Linked DNA regions of Homo sapiens. The protein of the gene in region 2 interacts with the protein of the main gene of each other region in a pairwise test. Each region holds a gene or a part of one and is shown on either strand. Other genes may lie near its edges.

What was found. The genes of interacting proteins can lie anywhere in the genome.
Region 1: the proteins of TMEM79 (region 2) and RNF8 interact in binary tests that used the Homo sapiens proteins (3 or more experiments, as listed by UniProt).

Annotation. Positions count from the first base shown.
Region 1 is NC_000006.12:37,367,483-37,370,982, forward strand, and holds part of RNF8 (E3 ubiquitin-protein ligase RNF8), read left to right. Parts: intron 1-895; exon of another isoform or gene 896-1,001; coding exon 1,002-1,736; intron 1,737-3,500. UniProt on the Homo sapiens protein: E3 ubiquitin-protein ligase that plays a key role in DNA damage signaling via 2 distinct roles: by mediating the 'Lys-63'-linked ubiquitination of histones H2A and H2AX and promoting the recruitment of DNA repair proteins at double-strand breaks (DSBs) sites, and by catalyzing 'Lys-48'-linked ubiquitination to remove target proteins from DNA damage sites.
Region 2 is NC_000001.11:156,290,134-156,292,943, reverse strand, and holds the end of TMEM79 (transmembrane protein 79), read right to left. Parts: intron 1,560-2,810; coding exon 1,346-1,559; 3' UTR 501-1,345; downstream 1-500.

The sequences.
Region 1 (3,500 bases), on a different chromosome or scaffold from region 2:
ATCCTCTGCCGCCTGGGTTCTAGTAATTCTCATGCCTTGGCCTCCCAAGTAGCTGGGATTACAGGCACCCACCACCACACCTGGCTAATTTTTGTATTTTTAGTAGAGAGGTGGTCTCACTGTGTTGGCCAGGGTGGTCTTGAACTCCTGGCCTCAAGTGATCCGCACACCTCGGCCTCTCAAAGTGCTGAGATTACAGATGTAAGCTGCCACTCCCAGACAGTAAATATTTATTAAGCATTTATTCTATGTGAGTCATTGTGCTAAGTGATTTACATGCATTATCTTATTCATTCCTCACTGGAACAGTGTGAGGTAGGTACTGTACCATCCCTGTTCTGCAGACAAAACTGAGGCATGGAGAGGTTAAGTAAATTGCCAAATGCTATGCAGACTATGAACCCACATCTGAGTCCAGAGCTCCAGCTCTTAACCGCTATCCTGTATTGCCCATATACCCCTGTTGATATTAATTGGGTCAGATCCTACCTGCCATTTGACCCCAGTACCAGATATAGTACTCTCTTTTTTTTGGTTTATGTGTGCTTGCTTGCTTACCAGTGCGTTAAGGAACCACATCCAGAGATAGCATTTGAAACTACTTCATGGACCTCACCCTTAGCTACTGCTTTCTTCACTAATAGCATTTTTTCTAGTTTTGGGACATTGCTCCAGTTTAGGTTAATAGGAGCTATCCAATTTCAGTTTCCTTTAATGCTATTCCATGTGTTTGAGTAAATTATCCACCAATAATAAGGTGATTCCTGCCTGTTATATGGCAGTTCTCTGTGGAGGCATGAATGTGAAATATAGGTAAAAAGCCAAAGCACTGCTTGACGAATGCTGTTTCTAAGGATGGTCGTTTATGAATCTTTCTTTTCTATTTGTTATCAAGAGTTTTCCTTCTGAAAAGGCAGAAGATTTTACAGCAGCAGGAGAGAGATTCCTTTAAGAAGACGAAAATCATGAAGCTTATTTCTTCTTTCTTTCACTTTCCCCAGAGTCTAAATGGTGTTTGGCTGAACAGAGCGCGTCTGGAACCTTTAAGGGTCTATTCCATTCATCAGGGAGACTACATCCAACTTGGAGTGCCTCTGGAAAATAAGGAGAATGCGGAGTATGAATATGAAGTTACTGAAGAAGACTGGGAGACAATATATCCTTGTCTTTCCCCAAAGAATGACCAAATGATAGAAAAAAATAAGGAATTGAGAACTAAAAGGAAATTCAGTTTGGATGAATTAGCAGGTCCTGGAGCTGAAGGCCCCTCAAATTTGAAATCCAAAATAAATAAAGTGTCTTGTGAATCTGGTCAGCCAGTGAAATCACAGGGGAAAGGTGAAGTGGCCAGTACACCCTCTGACAATTTGGATCCTAAGTTGACTGCCCTTGAGCCAAGTAAGACCACAGGGGCTCCCATTTACCCTGGCTTCCCCAAAGTCACAGAGGTTCATCATGAGCAGAAAGCCTCAAACTCTTCAGCATCTCAGAGAAGCTTACAGATGTTTAAGGTGACCATGTCCAGGATTCTGAGGCTCAAAATACAGATGCAGGAAAAACATGAAGCCGTTATGAATGTGAAAAAGCAGACCCAAAAGGGGAACTCAAAGAAAGTTGTGCAAATGGAGCAGGAACTTCAGGACTTACAGTCCCAGCTGTGTGCAGAGCAGGCTCAGCAGCAGGCAAGAGTGGAGCAACTAGAGAAGACTTTCCAGGAAGAGGAACAGCATCTTCAGGTACCACACAGAAGGGAAGGGCAAGAGTGGTCTTCAGGGGTGGGGCAGGCACTTCATGAGTCTCTGGCCAGAGTTCTCAGTTTCTGGGCCAGGTACCAAATTCTGAGCACCAAAGACAGGAAATGGAATGGGAACAGTAAACTTTTGAGATAAGGGAAGGGGATTGAGTAGAGGGTTAAGGCTTCAGCATGCTGATGAGATCAGGAGCCAGAGTTAGAGTGCCAAGATAGGGTAAAGTGACCAGCAGAGCCAGCCAGGGCATAACTCATCCCAGGAGGCAAAGCTGAGGCAACTCAGAACCAACATGAATTCAGGGGGAAGTTAGGTGAAGGTCAACATGCCACAAAACCACAGTATAGTCCAATTGAATCAATAGTTGTCTTCAAGACTTGTGTATCTTTGCTCTGTGGCCAAGGCCAAATCACTTAGTCTCAGGGCAGGTACAGGTCAGCTGGTTCCTCTGCCCTGGTACCTGACAGTTTGTTAGCTATAAAGGTTAGTTAACTCTGTAGCTAAGCCAGGAGGTGAGGGGCTAAAAAGGCAGAAAATGTTTTTGTTTCTATTTTGAGCAGCCAGCATGTGATGGGACAGATGCACCATGACTGCATTGTTGGGTTGAATGATAAACCACCTTCCACAGTGCCTATAGTAGGAAGGTAAAATAATGACTGTCTTAGCTGTATAAAGGTAAGACCAAATGTATTTCCATCCCTCAGTCATTTGCTTAGATGACAAGCTCTTGCACAAAGCTTTAGGCTAGAGCAGATCCTGTCCCTGCTCAAAATGTCATTTCCTATCTGGCAGGAACCACATATTTTGCTCCCACCCAGTTGCTCAGATAATATTGAATGTCAAGAATTCCCCATTGTTGACTTAGAACTCAGACGGACCAGTCACAACTAAAGTGAATAAGCTTTTTGTTTGGGTTGCTCAGGGTAAGGAACAGCCAGGGGTAGTGTTGGCTTATTTCTGAGCAATTTATAAATTTCATTCTGATCTCTGCCATCCCCTTGAACTGACAGTATTAGCAAAGGCCATGGATTAAATAGGTCTTTTGAGAGTATACACTGCTTACTTATGTGTACCTTTTTGCTTCCCTTATCCAGCCTAGACTAGTTCTTGAAATTAATAGAGGGTGGTTTATGTCTACGTGTTTAGTATATCACACCTTCACCAGGACAGAACTCTCTGTAAAGGCTAATATGTTCAGGAACAAGTTACTGTTGCTTAATATTTGTGGCTGCTCTGGACATGCCTCAAGGTATAGCTGCAAAATCTTTTTCTGTACCAAAATGTTAAAGGCGAAAGGATTGGTTTAGAGAATTTCTCTGGGTATGAGTTGGTTGTGTATATGATGCTCATAGTGAAGTGTATCTAGTCCCTTGTTTATCAGCTGCATCTCCCTCTGCCCACCAAGCCCTGAGGATTTATCCTATCCCCTACTGCTGGTTTAGAAGCTCATTAAACCCTTGCTCCTTCACACTTTTTTTTTTTTTTTAAGTACTCAAATTGCCTGGTACTAGGGAATTCTAGTGGTTATAAAGATGCTTACCAAATGGTTTTTGCCATTAAGGAATTTATCTTGTTGAGGAGGCAAGATGTTTCCTGCACACGATATAATCAGAGAATAGTTTTCAGTCAATATAGTAAATTAGAGAACAATTTCAAGTTGGCATATTAAATGGGTAGGTAATTCTTAAGGACAGAAGGGCCCAGAAGTTCTTTTGGAAGGTGCTGGACATATAGGTTAATGATCACCTGGAA
Region 2 (2,810 bases):
CCATCTTGCTTTTCTGTGGAACCTCAGAGGCCAGCCTCGACTTCCTGGAGACCCCCAGGTGGGGCTTCCTTCATACTTTGTTGGGGGACTTTGGAGGCGGGCAGGGGACAGGGCTATTGATAAGGTCCCCTTGGTGTTGCCTTCTTGCATCTCCACACATTTCCCTTGGATGGGACTTGCAGGCCTAAATGAGAGGCATTCTGACTGGTTGGCTGCCCTGGAAGGCAAGAAAATAGATTTATTTTTTTTCACAGGGCTCCAGTCTCTTGATGTGTGAGTGTTGTTGGGCTGGTCTTGGGCTGGTTCCAGGGAATGGAAGGGCTAAGAGATGGGCTTGGAAGGCAAGTTTCTGTTTGAGGCTCCATTTCCTTGCTGTGGAACCAAGGAACCTGCCAGCCCTGCTCCACCAGGTAGAGCTGGGAGGTTTCTATCGTCATCTGAATTAAACAGGGAAGGGACACTCGAGACTGGGGGACAAACAGGAAAAAAGAGCCAGCAAAGACTGGTAGTAATTTATTGTTACACACACACACACACACACACACACACACACACACACACACACACTAGGTTAACATCAACCACCGCACCATCCAGGCACTCCCCAGCCACCACGTGTGGGCACAAAGACACACACACCCCTCTTGGTAGGCAGATTTCCCTGTCTGCTCCCCTCTTCCTGTGGGAGAGGCATGCCTTCTGGGCAGTTTAAAGGTGGGAAGTTACAGGGGCCTAAAAAGGTAAAAGAGCAGCAGCTCTGCACTGGCCAGCTGTAAACAGTAAATAGGCCAGTCATGGAGGGTCCTGAATCCAGATCCTCAGGAAGGTTTTCACCAAACACCACAGTCCCATTTGATGTGATGCCCAGCCTCTATCCTTAAGGCATTTCCAGCGTCCCTGAGGCGCTCTGCTTAGACAACTGGCACAGAAGTGGTCAGGGCCTTGGCTGTGGCTCTGCCTCCTGCCTCACGGGAAGCCGGGGAGTGGAGCAGAGACCAGCATTAGGGAGCCTTGTGGCAGTGGTGAGAGGCTGCTCAGGAAGGAGCTGTGCCTCTCCCCTGGTCCTGGCCCCATGCCCTCAGCATCCTTAAGAAACACGGCTGTCCACCTTTTTCCCTGCAAGAAAACTAAGTCCATCCCTTATGACTGTCTCGGGCCCCAAAGGTGAAGGGCAGCTCCGGCAAGGGGAGAACTCCGATTGATTGGAGTCCCTGTTGGGGCAGTAGCAGGGTTCCACCCACCGCGGTCCTAGGCCTGGGGGCGAAGTCCAGGCCTGGCCACAAGGTTCAAAGATGTGTCAGACCCAAGCCGCTACCCCCTACTCCGAGGGCGAGGGCGGAGAGGCTCAGCCCCAGGGGCGGGGCCTGTAGTCGGAGGCCGAGCGGGCGTGGTCCGGGTAGTCCAGGCGGCTCTCGGTGGCAGTGAGCATGCGCTCCGGCTCCACCACGAACATGTAGTAGAGGTTCCACATCAGCATCGACAGCAGTGGCAGAAACGTCAGGCCGTAGCCGAAGCCTCGGAAGGAGCGGCCCACGGCAAAGGTCAGCCAGTAGATCAGCCTATGGGGGCAAGAAAAGGGTCAGGCTACTCTCGAGGGAAGCGCGTCAGCTGATTGGCAATAGGCTGACGGTGGGGGGAGTAGATAGGGGAGGCAGATGCAGTTGGTGGGTATGGCTGGTACTTCCAAATACAGCCAAAGTTTATGCACTTAACATGTATTAGGCACAGCGCTAATTACTATAAGTGATTGATTTGACTTCCCCACATCTTTATGAAGTTGAGTATGTTATTCCTTTCCCTCTTTTATTTACTTTTCGATTTATTTTTATTTTTTTAGAGACATGGTCTTGCTATGTTGCCAGTCTGGGCTCAAACTTCTGGCCTTGAGTGATTCTCTCACCTCAGACTCCTGAGTAGCTGGGATTACAGATGCGGGCCACCACACCTGGCTGTACAAACTTTAAAATGTTTGAGCAAATTCAATGAGTATAGTAAAATATCTTCCTCCCTTTACCGATTCCCACCCTATTCTCCCCCACCCCCACCCCAGGCATCAATATTATGGTTTCTTGTGCACTGAGTGATTTTTTAAATTATTATTATTTTTTTATTTTTGAGACAGAGTCTCTCTCTGTCACCCAGGCTGGAGTGCAGTGGTGCGATCTCAGCTCACTGCAACCTCCGCCTCCCGGGTTCAAGCAATTCTCCTGCCTCAGCCTCCTGAGTAGCTGAGACTACGGGCGCCCGCCACCATGCCTGGCTATTTTTTTGTATTTTTAGTAGAGATGGGGTTTCACCCGAGATGGTCTCAATCTCCTGACCTGATGATCCGCCTGCCTTGGCCTCCCAAAGTGCTGGGATTACAGGCGTGAGCCACCGCGCCTGGCCTATTTTTTTTTTTTTTTAAATTATAGATGGGGTCTCTGTCAGCCAGGCTGGAGTGCAGTGGCAGCCCCCAACTCCTGAGCTCAGGCAGTCCTCCCACCACAGCCTACCAAAGTGCCTTGGCCTCCCAAAGTGCTGAGATTACAGGTGTGAGCCACCATGCCCAGCAGATTTTTTTCTTTTATTTTTTTCTTAAAGACCAGTGTGCTTTTCTTGGAGAAAGAAGAAAAGAAGAAAGAAGGAAGAAGAAGAAGAAAGAAAGGAGGAAGAAGGAAGAAGAAGAGCCAGTGTGATAATACATTGAGTGATTTTTTAAAAAGTGCATATATGAGCAAAAAGTTATTTTTCCCTTTTCTGAAGTATGGCAGCATACTATATAGACTGTCTCTGCATGTTTATTTTTCCCCCATTTAATATATCCTGGA